3 separate regions of the Homo sapiens genome follow, and all the other regions are reported to be linked to region 2. Evidence: microRNA targets listed by miRTarBase, many of them from high-throughput screens and not tested one by one. Region 2 holds a microRNA gene; each other region holds the end of a gene's coding sequence.
The links. Region 2 holds the annotated microRNA hsa-miR-128-2-5p (GGGGGCCGAUACACUGUACGAGA, at 1,870-1,892, opposite strand). A microRNA usually pairs through its seed, bases 2 to 8, with sites in the 3' UTR of a target mRNA and lowers its output. Matches are read on the target gene's strand: a 7mer-m8 pairs with bases 2 to 8, a 7mer-A1 pairs with bases 2 to 7 and ends in A, and an 8mer does both.

Region 1: the mRNA of EN1 is a reported target of hsa-miR-128-2-5p. Seed matches in the 3' UTR shown: 7mer-m8 at 4,295-4,301.
Region 3: the mRNA of NKX2-2 is a reported target of hsa-miR-128-2-5p. Seed matches in the 3' UTR shown: 8mer at 316-323 and 7mer-A1 at 330-336.

What each region holds. Positions count from the first base shown.
Region 1 is chr2:118,838,580-118,843,579 of GRCh38, forward strand. It overlaps EN1 (engrailed homeobox 1), which reads right to left. Exons shown (of 2, transcript NM_001426.4): 2 at 3,592-4,675. The coding sequence ends at 4,359. Among named protein-coding and RNA genes, the nearest start is that of LINC01956, 4.9 kb to the left of the region's middle. RefSeq lists an enhancer at 3,664-4,244.
Region 2 is chr3:35,741,208-35,746,381 of GRCh38, reverse strand. It overlaps MIR128-2 (microRNA 128-2), which reads right to left and starts at 1,906; the gene lies at 1,823-1,906. ARPP21 (cAMP regulated phosphoprotein 21) reads right to left here. Exons shown (of 21, transcript NM_001385562.1): 19 at 2,417-2,543.
Region 3 is chr20:21,507,217-21,512,216 of GRCh38, reverse strand. NKX2-2 (NK2 homeobox 2) reads left to right here. Exons shown (of 2, transcript NM_002509.4): 2 at 1-1,200. The coding sequence ends at 294. Among named protein-coding and RNA genes, the nearest start is that of NKX2-2, 4.3 kb to the left of the region's middle. RefSeq lists enhancers at 3,217-3,736, 2,834-4,304.

The DNA.
Region 1 (5,000 bases), not on the chromosome of region 2:
CTCTGCCACCTCCCACAGACGGGGATGAGCATAGTCTTCCATTTGAACCCACTGTGACATCCAGACTAAAAGGGTCCAGGCTCTGAGGTGAAGCTGGGGAGGACACCTGGATGCCTCTCTGCCCTTCTCTGCCCTGCTCCCCTGTATGGTGGAAGCAGAGGATAGTGGGTTGACTAGATCGCCAGAAGAACGGCCTGTCTCATTCACACAAAGGAAAAACCAGGCTGACCATGGAAGGAATTGATGGCCATCCCACAGTAGCTGCGGCAGACACATTCATCCAGGGTGCAGTGTGGCCCTGGCCTGCATCTCCTGGACCTCCAGGAGACAGCCAAAGCTCACCCCTGCCTTGTAGCTTGGCCCTTTTTGGGGCCTTTTTTCTACTGTGTGTGTTGGGGCTTGGAGTGTCCTGGGGCACAGTGGCCTCCCCCATGGTATTATCTCTAGACACCCTGCCACAGGTGACAGATGGGTGTAGGGGCCTGGGAGGGTACAGGCTAGCAGGTCACTGCTCTGTTCCCTGGGCAGCCCCATCTAGGGAGCTTAAGAACTGGGTACACATACACACACCCACAGACATCAAACAGTCACTACTAGAGGCCATATACCCAAAGCACACACTTCCACCTCCCAAACCTAAATAAATATACTCAGTACCATCCCTATACAAATGCCCACACACAGTACAACCCACGAATACACACGAACCAACGCAATCACACCAAGCAACCCCACATTCCCAAATACCACAACACCCTCTCCTTCCACTTTCCTTCCTCCTTCCCTCAGCCCCATCCATGGCCTTCCCCCTAACCCTACTGAAGAAAAGAGAGTTTCCAGCAAGAAAACAGAGACCTTTGCCCTCAGAAAGAACCAGGGATCAATACTGTTTAGACTCAGCTAGCATGTATTTCCTTTTAGGCTGAGGAAGATTTAAGTTTATGGTTCAATTCAATCTTTAAAAAAAAGGAAAAGCAGAAAATGAGGCAGTTGGGATGGCGTGCTCAAGTATTTATTTCACTGCAGCCCCAGACCTGAATACACAGGTGGCTCACTAAGCCAGCCCCATAAATCAGAGAAATCAATGCCCGTTTATGATCATTATTAGTTTCTTTTTTTAAAAGGGCGTGCAAGAAAAAGGTCCCACCAGAATCCTCCTCCCCTCTCCTCTACTCCAATCAGAAAGAAGGAAAAATGGAGAGAAGATGGGAAAGTCATCCTGGATGATGGCTTCAGGGCCTTGGCCAGATCCTTGAGGTCGATGCGACTTAGACATACATAGTCAAGGAGGAGGCACAAACAAAATGTTTAAGTTCTCAGAGCTTCATGTTCTTTCACTGAACAATGAAGAAAAATCCATTTTCCCATAGTGATTGGAAGATAAAAGGAGATAATGGGCAAGAAAGCAAATTACATAATAATGACATTCACGTCTATACACTTTACTGACACAATCATGGGGATGGGTGACCACCTTCTCCTCCTCTCGCTGGGTTAAAGGAAAGAGCTCTTGACTTTGATCTCTTGGATAGAGGAAGGGGAGCATGAGGAATGGGGTGGTTCCTAGAGTTGCTGCTCACACCGACCTCTGTCCCAGCCTCTGGACCTGGTAGTCTTGGGGGACTTGAATATCCTAAGAGGCCACAATAGGGAGGGGAGAAGGGAGTGTAGCCAATTCCTAGACATTCAAAATAGTAAGGTTCTCCAATATATAGAGTTGAGCATCCTTAACATCACATCTGATGTGCTGGGAGGGTGAAATGGAATGGGACTCTTCCTGAAATTCTGAGAGGTATTAGGAGAAGGGTGCTCCAAGACACAGGCCTCAGACTGTTTAACAGGAAAGCCTGGAAGGCTTGAAGAGTCCAAGCCCACTCCCCAAGGCAAGCAAAGCACAGGCTTTTGACTACCAGAAAACAACTCCCCTAGACCAACCCCAGGGAAGGGCCCATCTCACTGCTTCTAACTCTGCCCACAAAGATTGGTTGAGCACCTATTATATGCAAGAGTTACTCCTCCAGAAAACAATGGGCAGATGGAAGGAAGGAAATTAATTGCAATAAAGTTGGGAACCCACAGCAGTGTCAAATGCACCCTCCAATTCCACTCTAGCCGCCAAACCCTTATGTAGGGATTTGGAGGGGACCTAGGCTTCCTGGGATTGAGATCTAGCCCTGTTAGTTCCCCGGCCAGGAGCAAACAGTACATTGGGCCAAATCAGGGAAAATTTTTCAATAAAAAAGGTGGAATAACTAGCCATTATCATTTTGCACAAAATCAATCCTACAAAAACAGTTGAGAAACTCAAGGGAAGAGCACAGAGAACAGGGATCTCACACATGAACAAACCCAGCAAACACACCTGCAGACATTCCAGTGTGCAAACACAAATTCATGCATGTACACACAGTGAACTCACAAACGTCCAATTGTGTATCTAATTAGAGAAGAAAATCAGTTGCACAATACTCACGGGTACAGGAATACACAAAAAACTGGTAGGAACTTAGGTGCACCAATATCTGCACATTATTGTATATGCACACAAGTATGTGTGGGCACCTGCCCGTCTAGCTGCACACGTGTGGGTATATACATACATATTGCCGAAGAGAGAAAAAATGTGGGAGTGGAATTTACAATTTAAAAAAATCCTGGACAAAGATAATACCTCCTGAGAAGGAAACTTCCCTTCCTCCCCTTAACCTCTTAAGATCTGAGAGCAGCTCCTGCTCTGGAAGGATGGGCCCCAGTGTTAGCAGCAAGAGGCCAGACATTTCCTTCTGGGAACCCAGGGTGTCCTGAGGGCCCTGGGGGCTTCTATGTGCGCCCCCCTTGGTGAGGAAGAAAGTTAGGCTTTGTTGGGATGCCTAAGGGAACCCTCTTTGGTTTAGGGCCCAGATACGGCAGACGTGCGCCCACCTCGGGTTCAAGGCCCAAGCAGCCACTCCGAACAGCTTTCCCAGCATTTGGGCCTCCTCTCCTCCGGCATTGCGGGCCCAGGAGATCCGAGCCCCGCGAGGCTCCGCAGGCCGCCCCCGGACCTGCTGCTTCGCCAACAGAAGCCCTCCCGCAAACGAAGTGCAGTGAGTCCAGGCGGCCAAGAGGCCAGGCCAAAGTGCCCCTCGCCCAAGCGGGCTGTCGGGGAGGGAGGAAGGCAGGCCCCCTTCTATCTCTGGATAAAAAAAATCTGCAGCAAAACCTGCACCAGGGGAAATAAAAGAAAGAAAGAAAAAGAAAAGTGCAGGTTGGAGTGAAAAGCAGTTTGTACAGGAGGAGGCCGCCACTGGGCTGGGCCTGGACCGGTGCGGGGAGCTGCCCCGCAGCCCAGGCAGCGTTTCCGAAGCCAGGACTGTGGTTGTCGGCCTTTGAGTTCCCTTGAACGCAATCGGAGACCAGGCGTGTCCCGCCAGACCCTTCAGACCCAGGCTAAACCCAAATCTGGGTCGCGCTTCCCCTTCGCCCTGCATTCGTTGTGCGGTGATCGCAAGGCCCGGCCGGCTCCCCGCCCGGCGTGCGCAGGGGCGCTGGGGCGCTGTGTGCCCGGACCCACGTCCTTCCCGAGCCCGCAAACAGGAGAGCCGCCAGCGCTCGTGAGCACAGTGTACACTTTATTTCAGACTACAGGTTTCTGAACATAATAAAATCTTTGGCTTGTAGCGGCGGTTCAGTCTCGCAGTCTGTGGGGTCGTATTTCTCAACAAGTCTCCGGAAAACGAAAGGGGGGCAGAACAGACAGACCGACAGAAGGGACCCGGGAGGTGGGGGAGAAGAGGTGGGCAGACACGAAAGGAAACACACTCTCGCACACAAAGAAAAGTCCCAGAGAAACCAGGGCCGGCGATGCGGGTCGGGAGGCACCGGAGAAGCAATGACATTCAAATGAAAAAGGCAACGAAAACGAAACTGGGCGGGGGCAGCGAGGCGGTGGGGGAGGGGATAAAATAATTATAATAATTATAATAATTATAACAATAATAATAAAGGAGATTAATAAAAATGTCCAGCAAATAGAGATCGCTACACGTATGTGTTTTCCTTACCTGAAATTAAATATATACAAGGTCGTAAGCGGTTTGGCTAGATAGAGCTTTAAGGAGTTCGCAGTTTCGTCCCTTATACTGGGAATAGAGAATGGATCTTATTTTTCGATAGCACCTGTCCGAGTCTTTCTCCCTTTTCAAAAATGCTGCGTTTCAACGTCATTGTCCATTCTGAGGCTCTCTTTCTGTCTCTCTCGCTCTTTTCCCTGCGCTCCCTCCCTCCTTGGAGCAGATGCTTTCTCCCCCAGCGAGGGGCCGGGAGACGACGGCGGCGGTGCCGGGAGGGGGCGCGGGCGCGGCCCCGGCCTGTGGCGGCTACTCGCTCTCGTCTTTGTCCTGGACCGTGGTGGTGGAGTGGTTGTACAGTCCCTGGGCCATGAGGTGCAGCGCCAGGCCGTTCTTGATGCCTGTGGCTTTCTTGATCTTGGCGCGCTTGTTCTGGAACCAGATCTTGATCTGGGACTCGTTGAGGCTGAGTTCCTGGGCCAGGGTCTGCCGCCGCTGCTCCGTGATGTAGCGGTTTGCCTGGAACTCCGCCTTGAGTCTCTGCAGCTGCTCGGCCGTGAACGCGGTCCGCGGCCGCTTGTCCTCCTTCTCGTTCTTCTTCTTCTTCAGCTTCCTGGTGCGCGGACCTGCAGCGGCGGAGAGGGCCGGGGTGGGGTGGGGGTGGGGACCGAGGGCAGAAGGGAGGGGGGAGAGGGCAAAGGAAGCCGTGAGAATAGCATTGCCGAGCTGGGCCGCGAGCCCCGCGCTTCCGGGGCGATCTCGGAGGCCCTGCTGAACCCCTGGCTCCCTCCCGCCAGCCAATCCCTGGATCGAAGTGCCCCTCACCAGACCACTGGGGTCCCCGGGTTCCCTTTGGGAGGGCAAAGGAGCAGTGAAGGAAAGCTGGTTGAGGTTGTAGGTGCACCCCACACCCCAATTCTCACAGGACAGTCAGGGACAGACCGAAATCAC
Region 2 (5,174 bases):
CCATTTGGAAAGTTTCTGTTAGTCTCCCTAGGCTCAACAAAAGGACGCCCAGCTGTAGGACCCAGAGCCTCTGTGCACTCTCAAAGAGCCACTGTGTGGTCTGGTTACTTGGATTTTATTAGCAGAAGTGATTCTCTGTAAGGTCAGGGAACACCATCTGCTTTCCCAAATACTAGGTACATTCATCACTGTGGTGGAAACTGTGTTGGGATTTTAGGCCAGGTATCCAGTGTGGTGGTCACAAAAACTAAGAGCCCAAAGGTCTCAGTGTGCATGTGTATACTAATGCCATCATTTCTGGGGACAATACTGTTTATGATCATTTCACTTTTCTCACTTCCTCACCCTGTACAGGCCACATTAACTGGCACTCACTTCCTTGACACCCTAGGCACTGCCTTGCTTCTATATTTAGCTTGATGCTGCTCTAGAGTGCACTCTTCTCATTACAGTGTCATTATCTTACCTTGGGAGGGTCATTTTTGCGGTGATGTGGGAGAATGTGACAAACCAAAGCTACCAGGTTGCCATGGAATGTAGGTGGAGCCAGTGAGGTCTCTAACTGAATGGGAGAGGGTGTTTCCACATCCCTAAATTCTCCCATTGTGCTTTATTAAAGAGTAAAAAATGCCTCATATATTGTCTCTTGTTTTGACATCCACTAACAAAGTTAGTGAAGAGGAGAAAAAGCAATGGAGAAGTCAGTGGGGGAGGCCTAAACTTTTTTGAAATCTAATTCTGTTGCCCAGTTATCATATTCATCTAACTTTCTCATCCCCTCACATAGATCTAGAGTTTATGGGTTTAGTGGATTGCAGCATGTTTTGTAACTGCGTTTCTTTGTATGATGACACTCTACCACAAGACTGAAATAATCTCTTTAAAAATTGCCACACAATGGCACCAAACCTAATAAAAATCATTATAATTAGATATCTGCATCTTTTTTCTTCTAAAGGCATTAGTAACCAAGTAGAAAACTTGCACATAGCCTCTAAACCAAGATCCTCAAGATTGTAAATTAACCCTTTAATTAACGTTAGCATAAAATAAGATAGTCCAGAATGCAAGCAACACATTTCTACAGCATGTATCTAAACTGATAGCACCGTTACCACCAAAATGATAAAGGTAATAACGTTTTCCACAAATTAGAGAAAATATTGCCAAGTGATTTTTTAAAAATAAATAGTTATTTGAAACCCTTTAGTGTTCTCAAAACACTGTAAAAGTCTAAAGTCAATTCAGAGGTCAAATATATTCTTCCCCAAACTAATACAGTGCTGAAACAAGACAAAATCTGGCTGGAAGATATAGGTTTCTCTAATTCTTCTCCCACAGACTTTAAATAGGCCATGAGATAAACCAAAGAACATGTAACCATCCACAATACGGGGGAATTTAATTCTTTCTCCAATCTGACAGGATGCTAGCAGTGTCAGCATTGGTATTCTTAGGATGTCTGTGATTGGTGCTAATCCTTGGCAAGAACTGCACTTTTCTCATAGGTTATAAAAATGGTACATATTGTGTATATATTACATACATGTATCTGTATACATTCCATATGCATAACATAGATTCAGTGCAGAAATCAGATCACGGAGCAGGCATCTATGAGTAGCAGCAAGGAGCACGTGCTCTTTACATGACCTACTTACAGAAGGCAGAGTCTCCCCGTCAGGCAGTCTTCAGCATGACAATTAGCAGTTTTTCCTGCAGTTTGGTCAGCAGGAATGACACAAACCTCTCCCTAGCACAAGCCACTCAGCCCTGTCGGGTTCGTGCTGCTCTTTGGATAACGGCATTCCATTAGGAGTGTGACACAGTAGGGAAAGAGACCGGTTCACTGTGAGACCTGCTACTCACTCTCGTACAGTGTATCGGCCCCCCTTCCCACTGCACAGTGGCTGCCGGGCTCTGGGCAGGAGGCATGTGGCCATCATGAAAGTGAACCATGGAGTCAGAGTTCCACCGAGACACGCTGGATTGTCAATAGCCTTCTTCTAAAGGCAGTATCTTTTAGCACGATATTGAAACAACCTAATTTGGTTCCCTAGCCTTAAGAACAGAGGAAGCACTCTCTTCAAATTGAAAAGAAAAAAAAAATTAAAAGAAGGTATGAACTAGAAAGGTACGGACATGGTTGACTTTCTGCTTTAACAGAAGAAGGATCAAAAAATAATTTATGGAGACTGTTTAACATGCATGCCAGGGATGCTAGTCTGACATATGCTTCACCTTCTTGTACCTACTACTTTTCCACACAGAGTCAATCAAATGCTTTGTTATCTTCTCTGGGTAGAGAAAATGTGCTGGTTTAAATTGCCAAGCTTGGACACTCATCCAAAGAGTACAAGATTCACCAGCAAAAATAACTGGGTTGAGAAGCAAATGGGAAACAGATTCCAAGTACCTGCTTGCTGTGCTGCCTGTGGCATCTGTTGACTCCTCTGAGCGTTGTACTGAACCGGGGCCATGGGCCGGTACTGTTGCGTGGTTGAGGTAGGGTACTGACCAGATGGGTAATAATATACAGGCATCTGTGGAAGAAAGGAGGAAGAAAGCAGAGAATGAAAATGTAGATAATGTAAATTTTTAAACTTAAAATATGCTTTCGTCTTATAATTGTGGTAGGTTGTGAAGATGGCCACCGCAAACTTCTCCCATGCCTATGTGTATGTGCATGCTACTTCTCCCGTAAAGAGGCAAAATCCATTTCCCAAACTTAAATCTGAGCTGGTTCTGTGACTTTCTTTTACCAACGCCATGAGGCAGAAATGATGTCTGAGTCTTTCAAGTCTGATCCTAAAGAAGACTTGCAGCTTCCACGTCTGTAGGCGGGGAACCCAGCCAAGAGATAAAGAAGTCTAGACTATTCTGCTGCAGAAAAAGGCCATGTGGGGAACACAGGTACCCCCAATTGACTGGTTACCCTCCAGTTCCAGGCATGTAAGTGTAGCCCTAGTCAAGCCACCCCAGCCATATGGAGCAGAGATGAGCCATCTGTGATAAATCCTGCTCAATTGCTGACCTAGTCGTGATCATACAATGGTTGTTTTAAAACAAGACTTTTGTGTTTTTTAGATGAAACAAGAGAGAGTGAAACAGTTATCATCAACAACGAAAACCTACATTTTAAATATTATATCTAACTTGAATTGCTTTTCTAATGGAAACAGGGGTGAAACATGAAAACTGCTGATCTGTAGCCTAAAAGGAGCAGAGAATGCAATCATGAAATATGGTAGTCTATCAAAGCACATTGCAGAATGATTGGTACACACCACTATTCAAAAAAGTATGTTCAATCTAAAAGGGAAAATATGATAAAAATGTTGTTTATGCTACCTTCTTAACTTTCTTATGACTGAGAATGAATAAAATTATTCTGATTATTTGATTATGATCCAAATCAAATGTTTCCTGATCTGATAGACTTCTTTGCCTGCCTCAGTTCATTTATATTAAGGTCACTTTCTTACTGATCTTAGTTAATTATTTTCTATCTCTGGGCTTCTGAGTTTTCGCCTATCATATTCTCTAAAATAACAACTGAAGTACCCTAGTAGACCGCCTACAAACATTATATACATAGGATAAAATTACAAGTCAATTATTTGAGAACTGTGATTTTCATGGTTATTTTGTTTTCTGATTTGCTCAGGTCTAATAGGAAACACTTTTCTATTTCAATATTGCTGTTGAAACATATGTAACATATTTTGCTGCCTGAGGATAAAGTGGGAACAAAATATAACTTAATCTGTGTGAACCTGTAGCTCTGCAATTTCATGGAATCATGATGAATTATAACTGTGGCTACATAACATATGGATATTCAAGGGCAAGAGGCTGAATGAGTCTAAAGCAATCTTGGGTCAGTATCTGGCAACTAAGTCATTGTATACCTTGCTTATAGTGATTCGCTCTTACTACTTCTCTCTTTTTTGTCAGGCAGTTTATAACAATAAAAAACAAATAATTCTGGAGTAATAATAGCATTTAGCTATGCTCTGGCAAACTTTGGTGGTATTAAAGATGACTACCATTATGCATCAGATGCCTCCCAATATTAAAAATAGGAACAACTTTCATCTAATTTATTTGTCAGCATTTATATTTACATGTCTTTTAGGAAATAGCGTTTTGTTCCTTTAGAAAAGACTGTCTTGCTTAAATGTAAGCTCATGAATGTGATATCTATTCCTTGATCTCCCTTCTTATGTTCAATATAAAACATAAAATATCCTCAGGGATGAAGGAATTTATACTTAAAAATGTTCTGATGAGGACTAATGGTTACAATAAAAGTACAGCTGCATGGAAAAAAATTTTGAACTCAATTTTTGTTGTTGTTTGTTTTGTTTTTTTTCTTTTCCCCAGACATAGCTTCTGTGATACCTTCACAAGCTGTGCTAGAGATTTGGCTACTTGAATCCAGCGCCACTCCAAGGTGGCGCTTTGGTTAGCTCTTAGGAACTATGATCCCCAACCGGATGAAGCAAATGAGATCTTGGTCTAACCTCATCCTCTCTTAGAGAGGATGGAAAGAAAGCCAGGTTAACAGCAATCTTTTAAAAGATCAGTATGAAAGGTTTGAAAGGAGAGAGGTGAAGGGAGAAAGGAGTAAGAATAGCCCCAAAGCTCAGAAATGTATATTTTCAGCCAATCATGTTAAAATATGGAGAATCCAAAAAGGAGTGGATTAGAAGAGAAAAGAAAGAAGAAACTATAAAAAATATGCACTTCTCCCATTTCCCTTCTTCAAATCCCTCTTTGTCTCGTCCATGTGCTTTTCACTTCACCTTTCCAGTGGGCATTTAGGAAGCATACATGATGAGTCAGATGAAATCGACCTTTACATTTATTAAATAGATTCATTTTCTGCAGAAATTTAACATATTTCCACATATTTGTGGGCTGAATCTGAACTAAGTTATTTCCATTGTTCCATAGTTGGGTAATCAGATTTTAAAATGTTTACTAAATTGAAAGTTACTATGGGTTATAGCCTATACCTTTATCTGTGATTCTTCAAAAAGAAGTTCATAAATGTCTAGACTGATTATGAACCATGGACACCTGTTTTATCTCCCTCTCTTTCTATCTTTTTAAAAATCTGTTAAAGAAGGAATGAAAGTATTTCTGTCACAGACACAAGAGGGGTTATG
Region 3 (5,000 bases), not on the chromosome of region 2:
CAGAACCACCGCTACAAGATGAAGCGCGCCCGGGCCGAGAAAGGTATGGAGGTGACGCCCCTGCCCTCGCCGCGCCGGGTGGCCGTGCCCGTCTTGGTCAGGGACGGCAAACCATGTCACGCGCTCAAAGCCCAGGACCTGGCAGCCGCCACCTTCCAGGCGGGCATTCCCTTTTCTGCCTACAGCGCGCAGTCGCTGCAGCACATGCAGTACAACGCCCAGTACAGCTCGGCCAGCACCCCCCAGTACCCGACAGCACACCCCCTGGTCCAGGCCCAGCAGTGGACTTGGTGAGCGCCGCCCCAACGAGACTCGCGGCCCCAGGCCCAGGCCCCACCCCGGCGGCGGTGGCGGCGAGGAGGCCTCGGTCCTTATGGTGGTTATTATTATTATTATAATTATTATTATGGAGTCGAGTTGACTCTCGGCTCCACTAGGGAGGCGCCGGGAGGTTGCCTGCGTCTCCTTGGAGTGGCAGATTCCACCCACCCAGCTCTGCCCATGCCTCTCCTTCTGAACCTTGGGAGAGGGCTGAACTCTACGCCGTGTTTACAGAATGTTTGCGCAGCTTCGCTTCTTTGCCTCTCCCCGGGGGGACCAAACCGTCCCAGCGTTAATGTCGTCACTTGAAAACGAGAAAAAGACCGACCCCCCACCCCTGCTTTCGTGCATTTTGTAAAATATGTTTGTGTGAGTAGCGATATTGTCAGCCGTCTTCTAAAGCAAGTGGAGAACACTTTAAAAATACAGAGAATTTCTTCCTTTTTTTAAAAAAAAATAAGAAAATGCTAAATATTTATGGCCATGTAAACGTTCTGACAACTGGTGGCAGATTTCGCTTTTCGTTGTAAATATCGGTGGTGATTGTTGCCAAAATGACCTTCAGGACCGGCCTGTTTCCCGTCTGGGTCCAACTCCTTTCTTTGTGGCTTGTTTGGGTTTGTTTTTTGTTTTGTTTTTGTTTTTGCGTTTTCCCCTGCTTTCTTCCTTTCTCTTTTTATTTTATTGTGCAAACATTTCTCAAATATGGAAAAGAAAACCCTGTAGGCAGGGAGCCCTCTGCCCTGTCCTCCGGGCCTTCAGCCCCGAACTTGGAGCTCAGCTATTCGGCGCGGTTCCCCAACAGCGCCGGGCGCAGAAAGCTTTCGATTTTTTAAATAAGAATTTTAATAAAAATCCTGTGTTTAAAAAAGAAAAAAAGAAAAAATCCCTGCCCTCCCGTTTGTCCTACTGCGCCGGGCCGGAGGCCTGGGCCTGGGAGCCGGGCCCGGCCGCCCGCGGGGCTCCCACAGGCGGTTCCTCTCGGGCGGGGAGGCCGGGGGTACCGGGGCCCTGGGGCGGGCGGGGCTCCCGGTGCAGGCCCCTCCGACCACAGGCTGCACCCCGCGCCTAGGATTGGGGCGGGGAGGAGAACGCTCGGCCTCCGGCCTGCGAGCGGTCGGCCGGAAGCCCAGGGCCGCCCACCCTCCCCCGCATCTCCCCTGGTCTCGCGCGCTGTCTGAACCCCGGGCGGCAGCGTCCGGCTACGGGAGGAAAAGTGACTTCGGGAGCCGCAAAGGCGAGGAGAGCAAACCCCCCTCGCTGGCCCAAATCTATGAGTGGCTCCTTCAGCCTGAGAAGCTGTTGAAGCCACTACACTCGATGACTTTCACTTTGTTACATTTGACTTACCTCACGCTAAGAAAGTGGGTGGGTGGGGGTCTGAGGTTAAGACTGGCTGCCTTCTCCCCACTCCCCACTCCTTTTCAAAATCTGCGGGCTGGTGCTGACCTAGGAGACCGCTAAGGCTGGGGGTGGGAACGGTCAGGGCGCGCGAGGCTTTGGCTTAGGGGGCTTGGGGGAAGTACGCGGGGTTCTGGGCTCGGGGGAGGGAGGGGATACTGCAGCCCTCCCTAGGATCTTTGGCCCCAGGAAGCCAGGGAGCGAGAATCTTTGGCAATCCCAGCAAACCATGCCTCTCCCTTCCCTTACGCTCCCATCCTTTCCGGGCTTCCAGGCCTCTCTCCGGGGACTGGATCCCGGGCCTCCTTCCCTCCAGCGTTCGGCGGTCCGAACCAGGGTGTGCGGTCCCCCCAGGTCAGCCCTTGAGCGTGGAACTGGGTGGATTGCTAGGAAGTAGAGGTTTGGGGGTGGGGTGAGCTCCCCGGATGGGAAGTGGGCACACAGCCCCGGGCACGCCCGGGAAGGGCGCATCCATCTTTCCGGCGGGGAACGGATTCCGTCCCACCCTTGTTGCTGGAGGAAGATCTCCTTGGCAGATGCTGGCGCACACTTGGCCACGCGGGGGAGCGTCTTAGGAAGCCTGGCCAACTGGAGGATGAGCCTTTCTCCTCTATCTCGCGGGTTTCTAAAAATACTTGGGACTCTAGCTCAGAGCCCAGCGGGTGCTGCAGACGCTGAGGGACTGAACGTCGGCGCATTTGGAAATTGTATCTCTGTTCTCTCCGAAGCTGCACCATCAAGGCTGGGGGGTTGGGTGGCAGTGAGGAGGCCGGGCAAAAGGAGCGGTCCCAGCTGACTTTCTCGCTCCCTGTAGTTGATGATCAGGTTTAATTCAATATCTAAAGCAAACATGATTATCCGTGCGACCAAATCTGTGCGTCGATAGCACTCTGCGCAGCAGCCCAGGGACGCGATGACACTTTATTCCCGCGTTCCACACCGCCCCTGGATAATTGAGGGCTCGGAAGTCTTTCTAATACCCCAGTAAAGGTCCTTTCCCATCTCCGGGCTCATCCTCGGGGAAAGGGCAGTTTTTCTAAATGCTAAAAGGTCTCCCTTTGTTCTCCACACTAGCTTGGCAATGTTTGGGGGCTTATGTCTTACTGTTTTTAAAGGCCAACGAATTTCTCCCAAATAGTTTGTTGTGCAATAATTGAACGCCCAACCTGCCCTGGTACTAACCACTCAACATCCACTTGCAACTTCCCCTAATCCCAAAATCCTCTTGGGAGGAAAGGTGAGGGTTTCAAGTCTCTTGGAGCGGAGCTGTCAGAAGGCCTGAGGCCATTTTGACTTTTCCAGGCCCCAGGGCTTCCAGGGTGAGAATGATCACAAGAGACCCTCAGGTTTCCAGAGAGGAAGGGGGAAGCGTGGAAGGTCCTCACCCTGGCAGGCTTCCACCACTTGCTCATTGAGGACAAATTTGGAGCTGTGGCCAGGACCGCGGGCCTGCAATCTGGGTGTGCGCTCCTGTGGCCGGCCGGGAGCCCGGGAGGTGGACCCGGCGCCCGCCTCTCTCTGTCCTCGGGTCCCCATGGAGTCAATAAAAGCGCCTGCGGAGCCCTGTGTGGCCCTAACCCCAGCGCCCTGGGAGCGCACCCGGCGCGGGGTCCGCTTCAGCAGTCTATCTTCGCCCAATCTACAGCGGGCGGTACAAAACCGCACAATGGGAAAGCTGGGAGCCGGAGATGTTAGAGGCGTGCATATTAAAAAGGGACAGAGAAAGGATCGCGGGGACAGAGAGAGGGGAAGAAGGAGAAGGGGCCCGCCCCCCACCCCCCGCCCCACCCCGCACCATTCAGCGCGCTTATCGCCGGCAGTGAATCCCGGAGTCAGGCAGAAGTCTCCTTGGGGTTTTGTTGGGCCTGTCACTGGGTCCCTTTGTCATCCACGGGCTCCATGCTGGATTCCATATGGCCAGCTGGGCCGAGGGAGCGCGAGGAGGGACCCGCACAAAACCTAAATTGTGTCCGGCTTTCAAACCCTGTATTGTTGTCTGTGAAAGGAAGACGCATTAAAAATTCGTGCTATATCTATTGGGGAGGAGGCTGGAGGAGGGGAGAAAAAGCCACCCCTGTCTTTGATGGCTTCGGAGGGCGCTTGCCCCGCCTAGGCCCCGTGACACTGAAAGTTGGATCTCTCTCATTCTGTCTCTCTCTCTCAAAATCTCTCTTTTTCTCTCTTCTCATAATCTCGCTCTCATAATCTCTTTCTCTACTTTCATAATCTCTTTTTCTCATAATCTCTCTCCCTTCCTCACTTCTCTCCTTCCTCTCTTCTGTCTCCTTGACTCTAACGCTGGGATGGGAGTCCGCGAACCTGCGTCTTCAGGGTTTGGCTCACTTGTGCGCACTTTGCTCACTGCTGTGTGTGTATCAGGAAACTAACTTCTGCCTGGGAGCTCTGCACCATCGGACCGTCCTGGGGCTCAGGAGGCAACTCAGGGTACCCAGGGCCTGGGTGATGCTCGGTCCCCTACGGGCTTAGCGGCTCCTGGGTAGATGAAAATCCACCCCCTGATTTCGCAACCGACCGGCCCCGAAGCGCCCGCGCGCGGAGCCGCCCTTCCACTCACCGCGAGAAAGGTTCTGAGAGGCCAAGGGTGCCGCTCAGTCCCGGGCCCAGCTAGACTTGGGCTGCAGCCGGTTCCAAGGCGACTTGCGCCCGGCCGGACCACTTGGTTACCAACCCCGAAGAGCTAAAGACGCGCGCGTTCCTTTGAATTATGCGCGGGGATCCATCCCACTGGCCTCTTGGTGCGATGGGAAACCACTTCAGAAACTTCTTCCAACAGCGTCTCTCCCCATGTTGGAGGAGGGAGATACTTCCTCTTTAATTTTCAATGTCTCCTGTATCGCGTGCTTACAAAATTCAGTACCAGGGAGACACAGCAGGGCTTCCAAGGAATTTGCCCATTTTTTGCCTCCTCTAAGCGGTCCAAATTGGCGCGAGGCAGTCGGAAATAATTTGGGTCATGCCTTCTCCCCTGCAATTGCCAGGTCAAAACTCCCATAAGCAGTCCCCAAATAAACCATATGTACTAAACAAAAATAGTTTATGCTGAGCTCTGTGGAAATAAAAACTGGAACCCAGATATGTTCCCCACAAAGTCACTCGGCCCTTAATGAGCAGAACTGAGCTGGTGGAAATTCCGACTAATGGGAAACTTGGATGCGCCCCCTTTCCTATTTAGTACAACGGTCATATTTAGTAGAATCAGATAATTTGGTAAGAGTGGAAGTCCCCCTTCCCAACATTCCCCACCTCAGATGGGGAAA